7 linked regions of the Homo sapiens genome follow. The protein of the gene in region 5 purifies or fractionates together with the protein of the main gene of each other region. This does not show direct contact. Each region holds a gene or a part of one and is shown on either strand. Other genes may lie near its edges. The genes, in order: MYO10, RELT, TMEM131L, GMCL1, SLC9A5, MYO1D and IQGAP3.

Evidence for each region.
Region 1: the proteins of SLC9A5 (region 5) and MYO10 purify together in Homo sapiens (affinity purification with mass spectrometry; one large-scale study listed by BioGRID and IntAct). This does not show direct contact.
Region 2: the proteins of SLC9A5 (region 5) and RELT purify together in Homo sapiens (affinity purification with mass spectrometry; one large-scale study listed by BioGRID and IntAct). This does not show direct contact.
Region 3: the proteins of SLC9A5 (region 5) and TMEM131L purify together in Homo sapiens (affinity purification with mass spectrometry; one large-scale study listed by BioGRID and IntAct). This does not show direct contact.
Region 4: the proteins of SLC9A5 (region 5) and GMCL1 purify together in Homo sapiens (affinity purification with mass spectrometry; one large-scale study listed by BioGRID and IntAct). This does not show direct contact.
Region 6: the proteins of SLC9A5 (region 5) and MYO1D purify together in Homo sapiens (affinity purification with mass spectrometry; one large-scale study listed by BioGRID and IntAct). This does not show direct contact.
Region 7: the proteins of SLC9A5 (region 5) and IQGAP3 purify together in Homo sapiens (affinity purification with mass spectrometry; one large-scale study listed by BioGRID and IntAct). This does not show direct contact.

The regions. Positions count from the first base shown.
Region 1 is NC_000005.10:16,670,789-16,674,288, reverse strand, and holds part of MYO10 (unconventional myosin-X), read left to right. Parts: intron 1-399; coding exon 400-607; intron 608-1,463; coding exon 1,464-1,600; intron 1,601-2,746; coding exon 2,747-2,867; intron 2,868-3,310; coding exon 3,311-3,500. UniProt on the Homo sapiens protein: Myosins are actin-based motor molecules with ATPase activity. Unconventional myosins serve in intracellular movements. MYO10 binds to actin filaments and actin bundles and functions as a plus end-directed motor.
Region 2 is NC_000011.10:73,395,687-73,397,974, reverse strand, and holds the end of RELT (tumor necrosis factor receptor superfamily member 19L isoform 1 precursor), read right to left. Parts: 3' UTR 501-2,288; downstream 1-500. UniProt on the Homo sapiens protein: May play a role in apoptosis. Induces activation of MAPK14/p38 and MAPK8/JNK MAPK cascades, when overexpressed. Involved in dental enamel formation.
Region 3 is NC_000004.12:153,605,860-153,609,359, reverse strand, and holds part of TMEM131L (transmembrane protein 131-like isoform 1 precursor), read right to left. Parts: intron 1-3,500.
Region 4 is NC_000002.12:69,832,660-69,836,159, reverse strand, and holds part of GMCL1 (germ cell-less protein-like 1), read right to left. Parts: intron 1-3,500. UniProt on the Homo sapiens protein: Possible function in spermatogenesis. Enhances the degradation of MDM2 and increases the amount of p53 probably by modulating the nucleocytoplasmic transport.
Region 5 is NC_000016.10:67,251,979-67,255,478, reverse strand, and holds part of SLC9A5 (sodium/hydrogen exchanger 5 isoform 1 precursor), read right to left. Parts: intron 2,938-3,500; coding exon 2,635-2,937; intron 459-2,634; coding exon 295-458; intron 87-294; coding exon 8-86; intron 1-7. UniProt on the Homo sapiens protein: Plasma membrane Na(+)/H(+) antiporter. Mediates the electroneutral exchange of intracellular H(+) ions for extracellular Na(+) in 1:1 stoichiometry, thus regulating intracellular pH homeostasis, in particular in neural tissues.
Region 6 is NC_000017.11:32,867,125-32,870,624, reverse strand, and holds part of MYO1D (unconventional myosin-Id), read left to right. Parts: intron 1-3,500. UniProt on the Homo sapiens protein: Unconventional myosin that functions as actin-based motor protein with ATPase activity. Plays a role in endosomal protein trafficking, and especially in the transfer of cargo proteins from early to recycling endosomes.
Region 7 is NC_000001.11:156,524,905-156,527,565, forward strand, and holds the end of IQGAP3 (ras GTPase-activating-like protein IQGAP3), read right to left. Parts: intron 1,696-2,661; coding exon 1,582-1,695; 3' UTR 501-1,581; downstream 1-500.

The sequences.
Region 1 (3,500 bases), on a different chromosome or scaffold from region 5:
ACCGTGTTGGCCAGGCTGGTCTCGAACTTCTGACCTCAGGTGATCCACCCGCCTCGGCCTCCCAAAGTGCTGGGATTACAGGCGTTAGCCACGGCGCCCGGCCAAGAATTTTCATATGATAGGATGAGGCATGACTCTTTCAAGTATTAACAACGCTGCAGAGGTGAGTTGGCAGCACAGTTGCTCCCAGTGAGACATTGGCTCTTTAGGGGTTTTTTGTATTTAAATTGAACTGCACAAAATGAAGCGGGCCCTTGCCAAGAAGTCACTGGTGCTTGCTCCATTCACCAGTGGGGGACCATTCACTGCTTTGGTCTACAGAACCTTGGCACAGCCTAGTTCCTCCCAGCAGCCAGCCCCCATCAGTCTAAAAATTAACAGTTAGTGTTTGCCTCCTAGGATACGGGAACAGTTTCCAGGAAGCGAGATGGAAAAATACGCTCTCTTCACTTACGAATCTCTTAAGAAAACCAAATGCCGAGAGTTTGTGCCTTCCCGAGATGAAATAGAAGCTCTGATCCACAGGCAGGAAATGACATCCACGGTCTATTGCCATGGCGGCGGCTCCTGCAAGATCACCATCAACTCCCACACCACCGCTGGGGAGGTGAGGAGAGGCAGCTGCTGCTTGTTCTGTTAGATGCCTTTGCTGCAGATACACCTGCGTCAGGAACATTGTGCAGCATTAGAGTGGCTGTCCTGCACAGTTGCAGTTTGCTTAGTACAGCTCTCAATACTAAGGAAATGCATGTAACCCAGAAGCAACCACACGAATATAGAGATAAAAATATATATATTGAGTGGAAACACAGAGATAAAGTACCTGAGACATAATCTTGCTAATCTGAGAAGCAGCTGAGTGTCTAGCAGAGCTGCAGACCTGGCTCAGGTCCAGCCACTTTGATGAGGGTTTATTGCAGTGCTTCTGCAACAAAGTGTTTGTTTGCACGTGACTAGCTAGATGAATATCAGATGAACACATTTTCTTTTTAAAATTTGAACTTACTATTATAAAACCAGTTGGCCAAAAGGGTGGTAATCCAATAACCACCACCCCGACCCCCACCCCCCAAGGCTTCTTATGGAAAAAAAAAAAACGTCATCTGGAGTCTCTGTTGTTCCTTGGAGTTCATAAATTTATCAGCCAAAAGACAGGACTGAAGCTTTTCACCCGCTTTTCCTGTTAATATAGGTTTGCAAGAAATCAGCCCAGCATCTGCCTCTACCGATGGGCAAAATACCCTGAGTTATTTTCAGCAAGAAAGAGATAAACCTAATCTCAAGAGAACAAAGGGAAAATAGTACTTTTGAAATTCTGGGATGACCACACGGGTAACATTTTTAGGAGGCTGGAGACGCCCTTGTGCCAGCAGCTCCCTCTGGGATCAGGTGATGGCACGTTCTGGGAACACGTGTTGGGGCCGCAGCCTGTGGAACTGAAGTCCCCCTGGTGTGTCTTCCAGGTGGTGGAGAAGCTGATCCGAGGCCTGGCCATGGAGGACAGCAGGAACATGTTTGCTTTGTTTGAATACAACGGCCACGTCGACAAAGCCATTGAAAGTCGAACCGTCGTAGCTGATGTCTTAGCCAAGTTTGAAAAGTAGGTTCCTTTTCCCTACTGTGTCAGAAGAGCAAATAAGAGAAATTGCAGAGCAGGGTTCAGGGTTTGAGCTTCCCATTCCATTTGTGGCTTCACGCTGTATTGGAGTTAGTTTTATTTTACCTGTGTTGATGCCTGTTTAACTTTGCATATCCGCTATTTTTCTCGATTCCTAGATAAAGCTACGGTCTTACGTGATGTAACTTGTCAGTGGTTTTTTACCCCATTCCTTTTCTCAGTTCCATGTTGGACCCGTCTGGGTATTTCTTGATTTTTTAGGTTTCCAGTTGTCATTAGCTTTGAAATTGGGCTGATTGACTGAAGCCAGCTTATAAACTCTTTAAACTATGTGTTATGTCTACAATATAAAATGGACCTACTTTTTTTTTTTTTTGAGATGGAGTCTTGCTCTGTTGCCCAGGCTGAAGTGCAGTGGCGCAACCTTGGCTCACTGCAACTTCTGCCTTCTGGGTTCAAGCAGTTCTCCTGCCTCAGACTCCCGAGTAGCTGGGATTACAGGCATGTACTACCACGCCCAGCTAATTTTTGTATTTTTAGTACAGATGGGGTTTGGCCATGTTGGTCAGGCTAGTCCCAAACTCCTGACCTCAGGTGATCCGCCCACCTGGGCCTCCCAAAGTGCTGGGATTACAGGCGTGAGCCACTGCACCTGGCCTGTAGACCTACGCTATTTGATCTGTGACTTCATATCCTCGAAGTAGCGCGAAGGTATTCCTGCTTAGTATAAACACAGCCCTCATACAAGAGTATTCACATCAATTTTTATAAATGTTATCATAATGTATCTGAGGCTTGGTAAAGGTAATAAAGAAACAGGCTTTTGTTTCTTTTCTTCCCGTGGACTCAGCATAATGCTTAGCTGGTACTAATTCGAATGCGGCTCTCTGAAAACACTTGTTAGCTGGTTAAACTAGGGGCTGCCTGTTTGTTTTCTTAAAGCAAAATCAGGATGAAAGTACGTTTTTTCACTCTGTTTATTCCTCTATCCCCATCTCTATCCACTGTTTTCTGGGCCCGGACAGAATGTCTGTGTCCTTAGAATACACCATGTAAAGTCAGGTCCCTGCGGGTCACTGAAGGCCCTTCTCGTTCATATTCTGAGCCTCTCTTGACTCCTCTCTGTAGGCTGGCTGCCACATCCGAGGTTGGGGACCTGCCATGGAAATTCTACTTCAAACTTTACTGCTTCCTGGACACAGACAACGTGCCAAAAGACAGTGTGGAGTTTGCATTTATGTTTGAACAGGTAAAAGGAATAGTTAGAAACAGATTTCTTTGCCGGCAAGCAAGGGTGAAACCTGTTAATACTTAGCCTTGTAAGTTAACTGGTACTTAGAAATGAGGCACACCTGTGGATTTCCCAGCAAAGACAAGACCAGCTGCTCTTTCATTCGTTTGTAGAATGAAACCTGCTACACATTTTATTTGAACCTCCGTTCCAGGGACTGTTCTAGTTGACAGGAGAGAGAGCACAAGGAATAAAATATGTGACGTGTGTTAGATGGTATCTGTGCTAGGGAGAAAATTAAATTTAAAGCAGTGAGCCAGGGGTGAGGGTACAGTTTTAGCCAGGGCAGTCAGGGAAGGTGAGTTTGAGAGAAACCCTCATGAAGTGAGGGAGCAAGCGACGTGGGCATCCCATGGCATGGCAGTGCGTTGACCGGAAAGCTGTTGACTGTCTCCTTTCAGGCCCACGAAGCGGTTATCCATGGCCACCATCCAGCCCCGGAAGAAAACCTCCAGGTTCTTGCTGCCCTGCGACTCCAGTATCTGCAGGGGGATTATACTCTGCACGCTGCCATCCCACCTCTCGAAGAGGTTTATTCCCTGCAGAGACTCAAGGCCCGCATCAGCCAGTCAACCAAAACCTTCACCCCTT
Region 2 (2,288 bases), on a different chromosome or scaffold from region 5:
TCCTCCTCACCCCCCAGCAGCACCTGGCCTTGCAGCCCACCCTGCGCCCACCCCTCCCCTGGCTGCCAGGACACTGCCACGGACGTTGCCCTCCCTGGTTTCTTTCCTGCCTCCCTAGCAGTGCCTTCTCTGTGGTGCCCTGGAGCAGCCCAGGCATCGTCCCCAGGACATTTCCTCCCAGCCCAGTCCTGGCCTAAACACCCACCTGAGTGCCTGTAGGTCTTCTTGTCTCCAGGTCTGTCTCCTGAGAGCTCTGGGCCTTCACATCTGGATGGCATGGGACATCCTCCATGGCTGTGTCACAGGTGCCCCCAGGACTGCTCCTGTTGCCCCACCCAGCTGGCCCTAAGCCCCCGACCCATTTCCCATTACCAAACCCTAGCACAGGGGTGTCCAATCTTTTGGTTTCTCTGGGCCACATTGGAAGAATTTTCTTGGGCCGCATATTAACACTAACAATAGCTGAAGAACTAAAAAGAAAAGAAAAAAGCAAAAACATCTCAATGTTTTAAGAAAGTTTATGAATTTGTGTTAGGCCCCATTCAAAGCCATATCCTGGGCCACATGCGGCCCTTGGGCCGGGTTGGAAGCTTGCCCTAGGAATTTTAGATGGAGACGCTCTGTCTTGCCGGGTGTAGCACCCGCTCCTGTGGCTCCTTTCCTCTCCACACTGGCCAAGCAGGAGCTGAATGCTTTGGAGGCTCCCTGGGCATAAGGCCCAGGTGACCACTATGTGTTGGTGCTCAGCCTTTGCACATGCTGTCCCTCTCTGTGGAACACATTCCCTGGCCCGCACATCTTCCTCACCCCCAATTACCTCCCGGGCTCCACACAGTGCATTTCCTCAGGTGCTGCGCTGACCAGTGTGGTAGCTGCTGGCCACGTGGCTATGGAGCCCTTGAAATATTTGAGTTCCAATCAAGATGTGTAAGATACACTCCAGATTTCAAAGCAAAAGCAAAAACAGCTCATTCACACTTTTTATACTGATTTTATATTGAAATGAAAATATTTTGGATAGACTGGGTTAAAAAAAAATTAAGTTCACCTGCTTCTTTTTACTTTTTGAAATGTGACTGTCAGAAAATTTAAAGTCACATATGTGGCTCACACTATTTCTGTGGGACAGCCCTGCCTCTAGCTAGGGGCTTTGGTGAGAACCAGATGAGTTGATGGGTCTCCTCTGGGCCCTGCTTCCCTGGCTGCTGAGGTGCAGGAACTGTGAGGGGAGGGCAGCCTGTCACGGTGCCCAACACAGGGCAGGGCTGGACAGGTACAAGTGGAACAGGCGGATAAGCTGGGAAGGGCACAGAGAAAAGGAGCTCCTCGTGACAGCACTTTCCCACCTTTTATTATTCAACACATGGAAGGGGGTGGAGACACAAGGATAGGGCAATGGTGAGTTTCAATAAATAAGAGAAACAGGATGGACAGGCAGTGGGCCCATGCCTGCACGGCCCCACATAAATAACCAGGTTGCTGAGCCAGAGTGGAAGTCAGGGCTGGGCCTGGCAGCCGCCTGCACTGCCCAGAAGCACTGGCACCACAGGGACACAGAAACCACTGAGGCCCAAGGTGTGCTCCAGCCCCACCAAGTCTTCTCCCTAAAGCTCCTGAGATCTTGGGGCTGGCTGGGCAGGCTAGGGCTCTGTATCACAGTCCTGCCGGGATCAAGTCTATTTTTTCAGTTTCATTAAAAACAGCTGGGGGAGGGGCAGGCACATGCATTAAGCCCCTTCCGTAGGCAGAGCCATGGATGGACAGCCCCATGGGGGCCTTGAAGGCAGAGGCCCTGGAAGCAGCAAAAACGGGGCTGGATAAAGCTACTAATGGGAGGGATGGTAGAGCCCAGCTCCCCAGTCCCCCACAACCCAGCCCAGAACCTACAAAGAGCTGAAGAGGCCCTGGGTACTGAGACGTCTCTCCTTACTTCACAGTCAGAAAAATGGACCCAGCGATGGCCACAGATGTGCCCAAGATTAGAACCCAGGGACTCACTCTCCTAGCCCAGGACTTTCTGCTACCCCTTCCCTTTATAGACCTGCTGGAAGAGGAGGGGGACGCACATCTGCTCTAGGGCCCTGTACAGAGGCAAGGGTGTGGCTAATTACCAAGGAATGGGGCCAGGGGTGACGGGCACAGGCCCCTCCCCTCTGCCAAGCCCAGCCTCTGATGATACAGAGAATCCCGTGGGCTCCTAGGATCCAGCCAGGGCAGGCACGGGGGTCGGGGCATCCTTCAGGGGAGCAACATGGCAGCAGGGCCAGGGGCGGGGCTCAGCCTGCTCC
Region 3 (3,500 bases), on a different chromosome or scaffold from region 5:
TTCTCATGATAGTGAGAGAGTTCTCACGAGATTTAGTTGTTTAAAAGTGTGTAGCACTTCCCCCTTCACTCTCTCTTCCTCCTGCTCCCACCATGCAAGACGTGCTTGCTTCCCCTTTACCCCTCCACCATAACTGTGTTTCCTAAGGTCTCCCCAGAAGCAGAAGCCTGTACAGCCCACAGAACTGTGAGCCAATTAAACCTCTTTATAAATTATCCAGTCTCTGGTATTTCTTTATGGCAGTGAAAAACAGCCTAATACACCAAGTCATCCTATTAAGTGTGCAACTTCCCCATGACCTCACTGAGTAAGAGTGTACCACAGTTAAAAATCAAAAACAAATGGAAAGAACACTAATAATAATAAAGGGGGCAGGAGAAGACGTTGGGAGGTGCACATGTTAATGCCCTTCACGGTGGTAATGGTTTCACGATGTACACTTATTCCCAAACTCATCAAGATGCATACATTAAGTATGTACAGCTTTATAGGTCAGTAATTCCTTTTAAAAGTGGTTAAAAAACAGAAACAAATGGAAGAACAAGACACAAGTGATCTCCTCAGTAACCTGCTTAAAGTTGTACTGTCTCAAATCTAATCACAATCACGTGGTCTGTTTTGAATAAACCATTAAATCTTCATTTCAAGTTAATAGTATCTGTAAGTAAATAGGAACATTTTTGGAATTTCTGCAAATACCAATAATTTCAGAAAGGTGAGGAATGTAATTCAGTGAAAACTTTCAGGTACTGTTAAGCTCAAGGCTTGAGCTATTATCAAATTTAATTATACCTTTACATTATTACAGGTAGAAACCCGTGAAATAATTTGCTCACTATTTCTCCTTGGTAGTGCTGCGGCCAACCATAGCTTGTCTTTAGCCATAACTCTAATCTACATTATTTTGATCAGACAGTGAAAATGGTTACAAACATTTAAAAAGAGCTATATTCACAAGATCATTTACATTACACATAAAGCCCCACTCTTGTCAGATGACCAAGAGGTTCTGGAACGTATAACGAATGTTTGACAAGTTTAACTGTTTGATAGTTGTTTGACAAGTTGATGCCAAAAAACAAGTGTAGAAAAACAGAGCCCTAAAGAATGTCAGCAGACTTTATTTCTATTGAGAATTTTAATTAATTATTTACTACAGGCCTCTCCGAAGCAGGCAGGGGAAATGGAGTAGAAAAGGGACACATTTTTTTTTTCATTTTTTGTTTTTGCTTTTATTTTTGAGACAGGGTCTCACTCATTGCCCAGGCTGGAGTGCGGTGGCACAATCACAGCTCACTGCAGCCTTGACCTCCTGGGTTCAAGTGATTCTCCCACCTCAGCCTCCCAAGTAGCTGGGACCACAGGCCCATGCTCATGTACCACCATGCCTGGCTACATTTGGCTACTATACATATACATATACTTCTTTGGGTAGAGATGGAGTTTCACCAGGTTGCCCAGGCTGGCCTGGAACTCCTGGGCTCAAGTGATCTGCCCATCACGGCCTCCCAAATATGACACATTTTCTATTACTTACAAAATATTATGTTTCTTGATGGCAAGTATGTAGTCAAAGCCATTCATACATACCCTAGAACATTTTCTTCTCACACAATAAGCTACACCCGGGGGTGGGGGGAAGCCTCAGAATAGGAGAAGGCAGATTATTCAGGTGCCTCCAGGAGTTCTGATAGTTAGGAAAATCACTTAAGGTATTCTTAAGAGGCGGGACTGTCCCCACCTTTCCCTTTTTCCCTTTAAAGGCAATCTTATGACTAGAATGGTTTCTACAGACCATTTGTATACTTTGGGAGAAATGGCTAAAATGTGGCAAACACACTGAGTGAGTTCCCATTCTGCTGGAATCCTAACTGCCAGTCACACAGGAGACAACGTGACTGGCACTTAGGATTCTCAGCTATCAGGCAGGTTGAGTCCAGCTCAAAGACCAAGCTGTTTTCTTCAGATTCTAGAAAAGATCTTACAATGGAAACAGCACACATTTCACAAAGTAAAATACTTTTCAAAGCTAGCAAAGAACTAATGCTCAAAGCTGGAAGTAAAAACTTAAAGGTTCTTATATATATGCTTTTCTCATTCTCAAGCATTCTTTGCACTTGTGACTTACCTGTCAATTATACGCGTTTATCATTTGCCAAGTTATTGCAATGCTTTCCTCTGAAATTCAACAGAGCCCCAAACCCTTAATATTACTAAAAAAACTCCAAACCCTCCCTTCAGACTATAATTATCTTTCCCTAGATTTTTCAGTCCTTTCTTATTTTTAATATTTAAAATTCTTGAACAATTTTAAATTGTACATGGATAGCAGGCAATTTATTCACTTTTTAACATCTCGGATATTTTCCCAGGACAGTGCTGTGAACATAAAACAGTCAGAACAAAATGCATGTCCATGTACAAACTTCCCTGGGAGGAATCTCCTGCTAACATATAACTTCTGCAGACACGTAGAGGACTGTGAATTAGCACCTCTGAATTTGCTGGTCTGAACATGGTGGAAAGCAAAAGTTCTTTCCTCAGCTCTTACTTGATCTGATCAACAATCACTCTGGTACCACTTAACATGCTGCTGATCCAGCCAAACAGTATTTTTAAATTCTGGCAGTGAAAGATTTGTTGCCATTTAAAACATTATAAGCATACTAGTAATCTGTACAGGAAGGAAAGATTCTGGGCAGGTTTACCATCTACAATGATACAGGCAAACTCTATGTTTCCAGACTCCCATATTAAATTTACTCACGCTTATTAAAGTGTTATTACCTGCTCATCTTGGCTCAGCTATTGGCATTGAATGTCAAGTACTAGACAGGAGGATCCTGAAGAAGAATTCAAATCCTCTGACCTACTCTGACACTACATTTCTCATCCATGCCTTTATATTTCAACTGCTTTAAAGTATTAAGATATAGAAGGTCCCTCCCATCCATCTACCACACTGCCACGGGCATTGCATCTTGCAGGCACATATCTCTTGTGGGCACAAGCGATCACAGAAGAAGCACTTCTGGAGGGAGGATTCCCTCAACTCTAATTTCAAGTGTGTGCAAAGTCATCCTATGTCAAAGACTGTGCTCAAGCCTAAAAGACTCACGTAACAGGGGAAATGTCCAACAGGACTCACTCCATAATTCACCTTTTCACAAATGTTTTGTATTCTAGACCCCAGAGAGTGTCTGGGAGAGAAACAGAATAAGACACCCAATCACCCCATCATAATACATCCACAGACAAGGTATGCCATGGTTTGATTTGAAGATCTGGGTGAACTGCATTACCAGGGGGCATACTCACACGCCAGGTGGAGGAGACAGGGCACAGTGTCCACCCTGCAGACATAAGTCCACTTCAGGCGTGTGCACCACTGCCAGGGGAAACGGTACAAACGGGTTGGACTAAATGCACCAAGAATGCATGTGTGCAGCTGCCTAGACCACATTCCCCTCAGAGGACTCCAACTTTCTTTTAAATTAGAA
Region 4 (3,500 bases), on a different chromosome or scaffold from region 5:
AGAACCCTTGGGAGAAAAGAAGGATGAGGTCTCAGGGAAACAAAGGCAGAAGTAAGAAGAGGGGCAGAAAATGGGGAAACTAGTGCCTTCTCCACTCTATGAACACAGAGTATAGATAAGGAGAGTACAGATACTGAGGCAAAAAGATTCCAAGGTTTTTCTAGAAATAGCACAAAGCTAATGGAAGATCTAAGGCTGTAGTGTAGCTGCTGGTGCCCAGACAAAGCAATCCTCATTCTGAAATTTAAAGAATCTGTGGCCTGTTCACTCCCAATCCATTCACCCTAAGTCATGGTTCCCAAACCGTGTGTGAAATTCACCAGTTCAGGATACCATCTGAACTTAGAGCACCACAGCCAACTCAGAGAGGCATGTGGAGTATTTTAAATTCGAAGGAAACACAGTAACATCTTTCAGATACCATGCAATCTGCTATCATTAGGTTGTTTGGCCCTAACTATGAGGTATTTCTTTTGGACCAGGGGTGAAAATTACTAAAATATGAAATGTGCTGTGATCCATGAAAGCTTGGGAACCTCTGCTCTACAAAGCATGCCCCACCTATAACCAACTTCGTAGTCTTCTTACTCAAAGAAGAGGTACATTGGAAATAGATCTATTTCCTCAATTAAAACACCATACACCAGTTACTCCTTCTTAAATATAAGTGGACAAGCAAGGAAGGATCACCCACCATGAGGAAGAATAAGAGCATATCAGAGAGACAGAGAGACTCCCTCCACCCCTGGAAACATATAATTCAGGGAAAAGAGAGGAAAAAAACACCCTCTCACCAGTATACCTAGAGATCTGAGATTATTATATTTACCCCATAGACTGCTATGATAAAGGATCACTCAGAACAAGAAAGAGCTTTTAGAGACTAAAGACATGATTACTGAAATTTAAAAAAACAAATAAACCAAAGAATAGTTTGTTTGTTTTTCTTCCTCATGTTGGGTGATCCTTCCTTGCTTGTCCACTTATATTTAAGAATGAATAACTGATGTATGGTGTTTTAATTGAGTAAATAGATCTATTTCCAAGGTACCTCTTCTTTGAGTAAGAAGACTACGAAGTTGGTTATAGGTGGGGCATGCTTTGTAGAGCAGAGGTTCCCAAGCTTTCATGGATCACAGCACATTTCATATTTTAGTAATTTTCACCCCTGGTCCAAAAGAAATACCTCATAGTTAGGGCCAAACAACCTAATGATAGTGATGAAAAAGTTAAAGGAAATTTCCCAGAACATAAAGCAAAAAGACAAAGAAAGGAAAAAAGAAGAGACAGGCATAATCCAAGAAATCCAAAATCCAGTTAAGAGGCATCCCAGAAAGAAAAAATAAAGATAAGAAGCGAAAGGAAATTATGGAAGAAATTAATGGAAAAAAATTTCCCAAAACTAAGGTAGTATATGAGTCTCCAGATTATAAGGATCCAACAAGTACCAAGGCCATTAAAAGACCCACACTTAAGCACATTCTAATTAAATCCCAAAATACCAAAGAAAAAGTTCCACAAGTTCCAGAGAGCAAAAATGGTCACCTGAAAAGAGAATTACACCAGAATCAAATTTTTCATCAAGACTGTAGGCCTGAAGACAATGAAGCAGCGTCATCAAAGATATGAAGAAAGTTACTTTAGATTTCCATACCCAGTCAGAGGATGAATAAAGTAAAAGAGACTAAATTTATATTTAGATACGCACAAATTACCCCCTTTTGCACCCTTCCTTGGAAAATACTTGAGGATGTATTAAATAGTTCCTAAAATAAGCGAGAAAGAAATGCAGGCTACACAAAATAGTGGATTCAATCCTAGAGATGGGGTGAAAGTAAGTCCCAGCATAAGAGTAGACAAATCCAGATTGGAACAGGAGGATGGAAGAGGTCTAGGTTTTAGAGAAGGATTCCATGAAAGTGTGTTTCAAAAGACTTTTCTGTGTTTTTTCAGAAAAACCCGAAGCCATGATGAAGGAATATTGTTATTTTGACAAGAGTGGGGGAAAGGCCATTATAAACTCTAGGACAATAAAAAAGCAATACAAAAAAAGGCACTGTCCAAATAAGATAAAAACAAAAGCAGGGCCTGACTTTAAGCACTTGATGGAATACAAGAAAAGATTCCATATGACTGTGAGGTTAGAAAAATTTCTCCCTTTGAACAGACAAGCAGTTGTGACACTGGACCCATCAAGTATGATTTATAATCCTAGCATACTACTTAACTCTTCTGAAACAATATTTACTTAGTTATAACTATGTAATGTCGTTTCAATTTTTTAGAGACAAGCTACGGACAAAACACTCAAGATCTGGTTGTAGAACAGTGTGGGTTTTAACAGTCTCGTAAATGTAAAAGTAGAACATGCAGTTGACAAAGGTATGAGGTGGAAGTTGGGCCTAAAAGCTAAAACTTCTCATAAAGTGGTCTGTTGATGTGGGAGAGCACACCAGACAACCTCAGGAAGTATATACTAGGGCCAACACACAAAATTCAACATCTTAATACTTTCTCTTTTAAATTTTTATTTGTTTAGTTTTTGAGACAGGGTCTTACTCTGTTGCTCAGGCTGGAGCGCAGTGGCGCAATCTTGGCTCACTACAACCTCCGCCTCCTGAGTTCAGGTAATTCTCCTGCCTCAGCCTCCCAAGTAGCTAGGAATACAGGCGTGCACCACCAAGCCTGGCTAATTTTTGTATTTTTTGGTAGAGGCGGGGTTTCACTGTGTTGGTCAGGCTGGTCTCAAACTCCTGGCCTAAAGTGATCTGCTTGCCTTGGCTTCCCAAAGTGCTGGGATTACAGGCGTGAGCCACCACGCCTGGCCCGTCTTAGTATTTTCTTACACCCTGCATCCGTATTGGGCTGAATAATCCAAGCATCTTCCAGTAATATACAGACACTAAATTCTGATATGCATTTTCCGATAAAGGTTTGCCTTAAAAACTTTCCATTCCAGTCCACTCATGTAGTCTAGGAGTTGGTACACTTTTTCTGTAAAGGTCTAGATAGTAAATATCTTTAGCCTTCTGGGCCAAAAGGCCTCCAAATAATTTTGTTGGCATCCTAGTAGGCAGTGTCCTACTTGCCAGCCTCAGCTTACCACACTTGAGCAAACTTTTCCACCATCCAGTGGGCTACAGCCACACCTCCTTCAACATCATCTGAATCTTAGCTTGGGAAAGGGGTGGGGGCACCTATTCCAAATTTGTTCCTTCTGTGGCTATTCTGCCTCAGCCTTAGAAGTACTGACTACTACATGTATTTTCTAGGGATCTCTTTACCTTAGCGTTTTGTCCTCAGTAGTTAATTCTCTGTGCCTTGTTAATAATGTTTATATTAAATTTCCTGTATTCAAATTGCTGTGTGATTTCTCTCCTTCAAATGCACTGTGACATATATTTCAATAATTACGTTAAATATAAGTGGTCTAACTACTAATTGAAAGGTTAGATTGTCCTGTTGGACAAAAGAAGCAAGACTCAACTATATGCTGTTTA
Region 5 (3,500 bases):
TACTGACCGACTCCCTTCAGGTAGTCAGTGGCCTGCACATTGGCAGAGCCCATCTCCACAAAGGAGTTGCAGACCTTGTACAGCACCTGAGCGAGAAGAGGAGAGTCAGCAGTGAGGCGGGAAGGCAGCAACTGGGACTGCTGGGAGACAGACTGCTGGGAGAGCAGGGTGAAAGCAGACAGCATATTTCTGCCCCAGGGGACCCAAGGGAAGGGACTGAGTCTGCGCAGACCCCTAGTTGGTCAGAGCATGCAGCCTGGGGTCAGGGAATGGCAGTCAGCTGAGCACGCTCACCACGGTGACAGCATCGTTGAGCAGGGACTCGCCAAAGACGATGATAAAGAGAGTCTCATTGACGTGCACCTCCTCAAAGACAGCTAGCACGGCCACGGGGTCCACCGCCGAGATGAGGCTCCCAAACAGCAGGAAGTCCAGTAAGCCAGCCTGCACCCTAGGGGCTATTAAGGGACATGTGTAGGACAGGCCAGTCATTGAAGACGACCCAGTCTCCTGGAGCACGCCCTGGAACAAGCCCAGGCCCCACCCCTGCTGATAACAGCAAGGAAGCCCAAAGAGGACTTGGGATGGCAAAGACAGCATTAGCCTGCAGATCAGGAGACTTCAGTCAAGCTACCTATGCCTAAGGTCTGGCTTTGCCACTTACCAACTGTGTGATGCTGGTCCGTCACTGTCATGTGGCTCACCTTAGCCATGCCTCCTCATCTGCCTGCCTCACAAGATTGTTTCAAAACTCAACCCAGCCATTTGGAATAGGGAAAAAGCCCAGGTACAGTGACTCATGCCTGTAATCCCAGCACTTTGGGAGGCCGAGGTGGGCTGGATCACCTGAGGTCAGGAGTTCAAGACCAGCCTGGCCAACATGGTGAAACCCTGTCTCTACTAAAAATACAAAAAGTAGCCAGGCGCAGTGGTGCAGGCCTGTAATCCCAGCTACTTGGGAGGCTGAGGCAGGAGAATCACTTGAACCAGGGAGGCGGAGGCCGCAGTGAGCCGAGATTGTGCCACTGCACTCCAGCCTGGGTGACACAGTGAGACTCAGTCTCAAAAAATAATAATAAATAAAATAAAATAGGGAAAAAGCACTGTAGCAACAGTAATAATAACTACCAGCAAATGGAAATTGGCTGCTAACTATTTTTATTAGGGGGAATAACAAAAGAGAGTGCTTTCTCCCACACCTGTGGTTCCCGGCCAAAGGGATGTGACACAATTCTCAGCAGGTGTGGAGAACTGAATATAGTAAGAAAAGCAACACAGATCGGACTTGAATATGTCATATAATTTCTATGAGCCCCAGTTTCCCCATGTCTAAATTGAGACTAATAACAATATCTACCTCAAAAAGTTCCTTAGCCAATGCCTAACATATAGTAAGCACCCAAAAGATATTATTATCTATTACTGTTATTATGATCTGATGTCCTCCCTTCCCTTCCTGCCCCAAATAGTTCACTACCTCAATAGGGAAACCAGGTTAGAGTCCCAGGTAGCAATTGTAAACGTTTTCTTGTAATACCTTGGAAAAAGTGTGAATCATTAACCTTCAGGGTTGAATGAATTTCTTGGGTTAGGAAATAAAGAAGGTAGCAAGAGAGGGCAACCTAAAGGCAAAGAGCCTCAGTAAAACAGACCTGGGGCCAGGCGTGGTGGCTCATGCCTATAATCCTAGCACTTTGACAGGTTGAGGTGGGCAGATCACCTGAGCTCAGCAGTTCAAGACCAGCCTGGCCAACATGGCGAAACCCCATCTCTACTAAAAATACAAAAATTAGCTGGGCATAGTGACATGTGCTTGTAATCCCAGCTACTCAGGAGGCTAAGACAGGAGAATTGCTTGAACCCAGGAGGTGGAGGTTGCAGTAAGCCAAGATCATGCCATTGCACTCTAGCCTGGACAAGAGTGAGACTCCATCTCAAAAAAACAAGCAACAACAACAACAACAAACACGGACCTCTTCTGCTAACCTTGGACCTGATAGCAAACAAATGCAAGGGGTTCTATTTCCTCATGTGTAAATGTGACAAACTACACAAAAGGGTTGCTATGAAGAGTCAGTGGGATAAGTAAGGAGAGAAAACCCAGTGTAGTGCCAGCATTTGATGGATTTATAATATTTATTTTTTAAATATCTATTTATTTATTTAAAAAAATAAATGTTTAAAATAATGAATTTCTTATAGACAACATATAGTTAAGAAAAAAAAATAATAATAAAAACAGAAAACCACCCAGACCTGGCCTGGGGAGAGCCAGGACAGCAGGCCCTTGCAGAAATGATGCACAGCTATGCCTCAGGGGAGACGGGCTGGCAAATGGCAATGTGGTAACAGAGGGCAGGAGGCAACAGAATGGTAACACAGGCTCCCCAGCCTTGGCAGCCCACATACAGCTGGGAGCCAGACTCCTGCTCAGCTGTTATGCTGCAGAAGCCCAGACTGGCAGAGACCTCAATGAGGCCTGAACCCCAGCGGGAGCACTGCCTTGCACTCCAGAGGGAGGGACCTAGGATGGAGCTTTCAGGGCATGGCTCACACCAGCATGGGCCTCCAGAGCTTGAGGAGAAGGGAGAGGGGTGATGGGTCTGGCAAAGCCCAGGTCTTAGGGTCACTCACCTACAAGTCCAGCCTGCTGCAAGCCCCAGAGGGCAGCGCCTGTTGTGAAGGCATTCCAGAGTGTGCCTACCACGGCATAGGTGAGGATGGCACCCAAGTTGTCAAAGAACAGCCTGCTAGGCATGAAATAGCCTGAGTCCAACACAATAGGAGGCAGCAGGAAGAGGAAGAAGGTGCCTGGCTCCAGCTGGTACTCAGCTTTCTTGGCCACAGCCAAAACAATTCCCCCTAGCACCAGGCCCAGCAAAATCAGCAGGCAGCTCTCAGGGACCAGAGATGTTACTTTCCGAGACAGGTGAAACACTGCAATGCAAAAAGAGTGCAGGATGGATCAGTTTATGGAATATCCTCCCACACACAGGCCTATGAACTCCCAGTTTTGTTTTTTTTTTTTTGAGATGAAGTCTCACTCTGTTGCCCAAGCTGGAGTGCAGTAGCACAATCTCAGCTCACTGCAACCTTCACCTCCCGGGTTCAAGTGATTCTCCTGCCTCAGCCTCCTGAGTACGGGGACTACAGACACGCGCCACCATGCCCAGATAATTTTTTTTATATTCTTAGTAGAGACAGGGTTTCACTATGTTGGCCAGGCTGGTCTTGAACTCCTGACCTCATGATCCGCCCACCTTGGCCTCCCAAAGTGCTGGGATTACAGGTGTGAGCCACCGCGCCTGGCCAACCTTCTAAGACTGGGACCAAGGGAGGAGAAATATGCAAGACTTCTAGAATTTCCAATCTCCAGGGCTACAAACCCTCCCCTGCAGTCAAAGTCATCTGTTTCTTAGTGCTCCTGTCACACTATGGTAACCTAGGCCTTTACTGCTTTTTCCCCTTCTAGAAATGTCCCTTCCTTTATACTTTCATCC
Region 6 (3,500 bases), on a different chromosome or scaffold from region 5:
TTTTTTTCTTTCTTTTTTTTTTTTTTTAGCAGACAATCTTCTCAAAATACTGTACTTTAATAGAACTTAACTGTGTGTTGGGGCAGTGAGTTATAGATTAGAAGAAAGGCAGGAAACAGACACACACATACTCACCACACCACCCCTGTATTCTTTCTCTGTGGCTGTTTGGTCATTTGGAAAATTTGGTGGGACAAAGGGTGTCTCTTGCTTGCCAGGGAAAAAAACCCATAGATACCCTGGGTGGTCTTCAAGTAAATGTAAACCTGCCATTGGTTCAGGGCTCTAGTTAGAAATAGCTCTAGTTAGATTTATAGGAGAGGTGAATGGCACACTAAATCTTTTTGGCTTCCATGTGAAATTCTTTGGCAACCTCTTTTGAAGGCCTTTGGAAAAGGACAGTTTGCTCTCTGCCTGTTTTGTACATTGGCTTCATATTGGGACAAAAATGGGAATTTGGGTTTTGGAGCTGCCATTTGGAGTGAATCACCCTGCCGCCTGGTTTCCTTTCCTACTCCGTGACAGATTTCCGAGACTATTTTTATTCAGGGTCATTTCTTGACCCTGGAGACTTCTGCTGAATTTAGTTCCCAAATAGAGCCAGATGTGGGTGGAATCAAGCACTTAGAAGTTGCTACTGGTTCATTTCATTGCAGGTTCTGATGGGATCTACTTTTCTTTTTTCTTTTTTTTAGACGAGGTCTCACTCTGTCACCCAGGCTGGAGTGCAATGGCACAATCATGATTCACTGCAGCCTTGACTTCCCCAGCTCAAGCAACCCTCCTACTTCAGCCTCCTGAGTAGCTGGGACTACAGGCGCACACCACCAAGCCTGGCTAATTTTTTTTTTTTATTTGGGAACTACTTTTACATTAAAGAGATACACTTTGGCTTTTTGCTTAACTTTGAGACAAAAATGTTGAATCTGATATAGCTAGAAATGTGTTTATTTAGTGATCTCCATATTAGCTCTATGTGGAGAGCTGTTCGTTGACATTCTCACCTAAGTGTGAGTCAGCTAAGCAAAATGGACACTATCTCTAGGAGTGACCTCATTTAATGATAATTCTCTAGTACCCATTTGTGGTGCTGCCACTGGAACTGGTTTGGGTCATTGTATTATTGCCCAGCCACTGCTAAGTCGGGGAACTTTACTGTCAGCAGTGGCTCCAGCTCCGCTGGGTAGATTACCTGTTCATGAGCCTCACCGACATGGCCTATAAAAATGCCAACTATATTCATAATGGGGTCAGAGGGTAACAGCATTTTAAAATATGCATTGTATGTCTCTCCTTTATCATTTATTAGATGCCTTGATTTGGATGACAGTTTTATTTCCTGTAGGAAGCAGGCTTCTTTCAGTTCAACTGCAATGTAATTACTGGCTAGATCTCTTTTTTTTTTTGAGACAGGGCCTCGCTCTGTTGCCCAGGCTGGAGTGCGGTAGTGCGATCTTGGCTCACTGCATCCTCTGCATCCCAGGTTCAAGCGATTCTCATGCCTCAGCCTCCCTAGTGGCTGGGATTACAGGCACGTACCACCACTCCCAGCTAATTTTTTTTTTTTTTTGTATTTTTAGTAGAGATGGGGTTTTGCTATGTTGGTCAGGCTGGTCTCAAACTCCTGAGCTCAAGTGATCCGCCCGCCTCAGCCTCCCAAAGTTTTGAGATTACAGGCATGAGCCACCGAACCCAGCCAAGATCTCTTGAATAGAACAATGTTTTCCAAACTTTAGTTTTGAGCATTTGTGGGAAAAGAGAATCAAAAGTATGCTTCCAATAGGGAATCATGGAAAGAGCACAGGCTCTGAGACGTAAATGACCAAGTTCAAATCTCAGCTTCAGCTGAGCATACTTCTCTTACCATAGGCTTCCCTAAGCCTCATTTCCTTATATGTAAAATGATCGCCTTTTAGGGTTATTGAGATGAAATCACATGTTCAGCAAGTGCCTGGTATATAATTCTCACTCAACTAATGCTAACTCTTCCTGAATCCTTCCCGAATGGCCTCACCTCCCTACCCTGACCCCATAACTGCTAGAGAGCTAGATATTTTCATCTCTTCCTTGTCATTTCTTCCTCCCTCACTAAGACAAAGTTTTGTCTTTTTTGTTTGTTTTGATTTTGTTTGGGGGGCAAGGATGAAAGTTTGCAATGGCGCAAACTAGGGAATTCAGATTACCTAGCAGAGAGTGCAAGAACACGAAATAGACAAATCTGGACCTTAATCTTGTCTTTGTTCCTTTACTACCACCTGTGTGACTTTGGACAAGTGACTTAGCTTCTTTGAGCCTCAGTTTTTTCATCTATAAAGATGATGTGTTCTTGTGAAATTATAGCACATTTAAAATATGTGTCAAATACCTATGGTGGTGGCTGAAGCATAGTAGATACTCAGTGGGTACCCCTCTGTCTCTGCTCCATTCCCTGGTCCAGCCCTGTGAACCAAAAATGCCCTTGCTATTCCCAATTCACTCTGTAACTATCACCCTATGCATTCTCATAATCACATTCCCTCCAGGTATCACTATTTAATTTCTAGAAATCGTTTTAGACTCTTTGGAAAATGAAATATATTCATATTTAAGAGATTTCTAAACTATTTTATTCTGCATGTCACTGTTCTCAGCCTCCGTGAAGGTTTGTAACATCTAGGCACTATTGCTAGGTAATAGACTTTAAGTCTAGAGTTTTTTTTTTGTTTTTTTTTTAAATCTATAACCAATTTCCTCATTATCTATAGACCCTATATGTTTTTCATATAATCTCCTGGTATTAAAGCTAGCAACTACTTGAATTCTTTTTTTTTTTTTTTTTTTTTTTTTGAGACGGAGTCTTGCTCTGTCGCCCAGGCTGGAGTGCAGTGGCATGATCTCTCGGCTCACTGCAACCTCCATCTCCTGGGTTCAAGCAGTTCTCCTACCTCAGCCTCCTGAGTAGCTGGGATTACAGGCGCCTGCCACCATGCCCAGCTGATTTTTGCATTTTTAGTAGCGACAGGGTTTCACCATGTTGGCCAGGCTGGTCTCGAACTCCTGACCTCAGGTGATCTGCCCGCTTTGTCCTCCCAAAGTGCTGGGATTACAGGCGTGGGTCACTGTACCCGGCCAACTACTTGAATTCTTACAGTGTGCTTAGTGCTGGGTTGGGTACTTTGGTGGGGGTTACTTTTAATAAAGTTACTCTTTGAGGGATAGCTTAATTGGGAGTAAGAGATACCTTAATAAATGGATCAATATAAAGTGAAATATGATTGAGCTCAAATGAATAGCACAGACAATTCTTTTTTTTTTTTTTTTTGAGACAGTCTCACACTATCACCTGGGCTGAAGTGCAGTGGCGTGATCTCAGCTGACTGCAACTTCCGCCTCCTGGGTTCAAGCAATTCTCCTGCCTCAGCCTCCCGAGTAGCTGGGATTACAGGCACCTGCCACCACATCCAGCTCATTTTTGTATTTTTAGTAGAGATGGGATTTCACCATGTTGGCCAGGCTGGTCT
Region 7 (2,661 bases), on a different chromosome or scaffold from region 5:
TGTCTCTACTGTCCCCTCCCCAACAGACTTCCCTCCCTACTTTCTGAAAGCAAGGAGGAAAGGAGGGAGCTTTCCCTTCAGAAAGGAGATTTTGATCAGAGTGTAGAATCTACAATACCTAAGGAGTTATGGCTTAAGCACCTTTGATATCACCACCCAAGGCTCAGGAAAAGAACCTGCAGGAACTGTGTGTAAAACGGGTGGGGTAGAAATTAGAGTGGCTTCTCTTCTCAGCTTTAGTCTTCAGAGTGGCCGATAAAAACAGAATAGAAACCTAAGCATTCCTTCCTCCTCTCTGTCCCCCGGGGGAAGGAAGAGAGAATAAATGCCACATCTCATTAAGCTTTTACGATCTCAGGCAGGCAGAGTAGGACCACACCGGAGGCAGGCAGAGGGCTGGGGGAGGCTGCAGGAAGGATTCCCCAGTTCTCTCAGGGAGCTGTGTTCCAGAACTTAAAGGCCGGCTCTACAGAAAATGAAATAAGGGTTAACAACAGATGTGGGAGTAACAGCTGCTTTTATTAACATCAGAAGGGCAACAGTACAGGAAGTTGGGTAGATGTGGGGACAACAGAGAGACTGTGGCAGAGGCAGGACTGCAGATCTATGGAAATTGCCTGGAAGAGTCAGCTGTAAGGGATGAGAATCCTGAGGGTAAAAGAGAAAAGGGAAAGACTCCTCTTTGATCTTATGAAGCTGAAATAACAAGATCTTAAACATGAGTGAGAATCTGTTGCCCCAACCTAAGGTGACTTTAAATCCAAGGTAAAAAACACGGCATGGGTATTAGTTTGAATAGGGAAAATGAGAACTCTCTTTGAGCTCAAAAAAAAAAAAAAAAAAAAAAAAATGAAAGCGTTAAAACCCTGATTAAGTCTGCACAATGATCCAGAGTGTAAGGATGGGAGAAAGAATAAATACCCTAGTGACCCACATATTAAACAGACCACAGACAAGAGAACAAGACTTGAAGCTAATGGAAGGTCATCTTGCCCATGCCGCCATGGGGGGCAACAGTGCCACAATGCCACATGGGCACTAACACACACTGCATCCCCCCAGTCCCTGCCCAGGTTGGAGGGTGTGCAGATCACAGCAGCAGAGCTGCCTAGACTCAGGAAGGGCAGGAACACCCACTGCTGATGCAGTGGGAGGTAGGGATGGGGAGCCTGGCCCTGGCTTTGTGGGAGTGCAGAGAGAAGGAAGGCAGAGGGGAAATCAAGCCGCTGGGGCAGTGCTTGTAATATTGGGGTGACTGTGGGAGGGCAGTAGCAGACACAAGAGTAATGGCTTTCCCAGGTCAAGGTCCATGTCCTACCATCTGGCAGGAAAGCCAGGGGTTTGTCATGCATGATAAAAGCCACACAGCTGGACTCTGGGCAAGGCCCACTTTAGCCAATTAGAAGATACACTGTCTGTGGCCAGGCAGGCAAGCTCCTCCCAGCTGGGGAAGGGGTGAGAATCCCTGGGCCTTGCCCAGTCCTGAGCTCTAGGTGTCTGCAGGGAAGCACAGTGGTGAGTTAGTGTTAAAGAAAGCATCCAGAGAGGTAAGAGGGGCTTGGGTAGCACCCTTTGCCTCTGTCACTTCCGCAAAAACTTCTTGTTGAGGAGGAAGATGAGAAGGTTGACATTGACTTTGGCCTTGTTGAAGAGTTTCATGACAGCCACACCCTCATACTGGAGCTGCAGGAGATCCTAGGAGGGAAGAGGCAGGGAGGGGAGTTTAAGGGCTTCTGAATGTGGTCCAGTCAGATGGTGTACAAAACACTCACATCATGGGGCCTTCTGCAGTCACCAGTGGCACTGGCCACTGAAGTAGGGCATTGAAATCCCACTTCACAAATGAGGAAACTGAGGCAAGAGAGGTACAGTGACTTGATCAAATGTCAACTCAAGCAGAACCAGGGCTTGAAATTGTTTTTCTTATTTTATTTATTTATTTTTTTGAGACGGAGTCTCACTCGGTCTCCCAGGCTACAGTGCAGTGGCGCGATCTCGGATCGCTGCAATCTCCGCCTCCCAGGTTCAAGCGATTTTCCTGCTTCAGCCTCCTGAGTAGCTGGGATTACAGGCAGGTGCCACCACGCCAGGCTAATTTTTGTATTTTTAGTAGAGACAGGGTTTCACTATATTGGCCAGGCTGGTCTTGAACTGCTGACCTCGTGATCCGCCCGCCTCGGCCTCCCAAAGTGCTGGGATTACAGGCGTGAGCCACTGCACCCGGCCAAAATCATTTTTCTTACTCAAAAGGTAAAACATCAGAGCAAAAAGATTTGGATTAAAAACTACTGCTCGGCTGGGCATGGTGACTCATGCCTGTAAATCCCAGCATTTTGGGAGGCTGAGGCGGGCGGATCACAAGGTCAGCAGTTCAAGACCAGCCTGACCAACATGGTGAAACCCCATCTCTACTAAAAATACACAAAAAGCCGGTGTGGTGGCGCACGCCTGTAATCCCAGCTACTCAGGAAGCTGAGGCAGGAGAATCGCTTGAACCCAGGAGGCAGAGGTTGCAGTGAGCTGAGATTGCGCCATTGCACTCCAGCCTGGGTGACGGAGTAAGGCTCCGTCTCAAGAAAACAAACAAACAAAAACCCAAAAAAGCAACAACAACAACCACAACCAAAAACACCGTTGCTTCACTCCTTTCCTGAACACTGG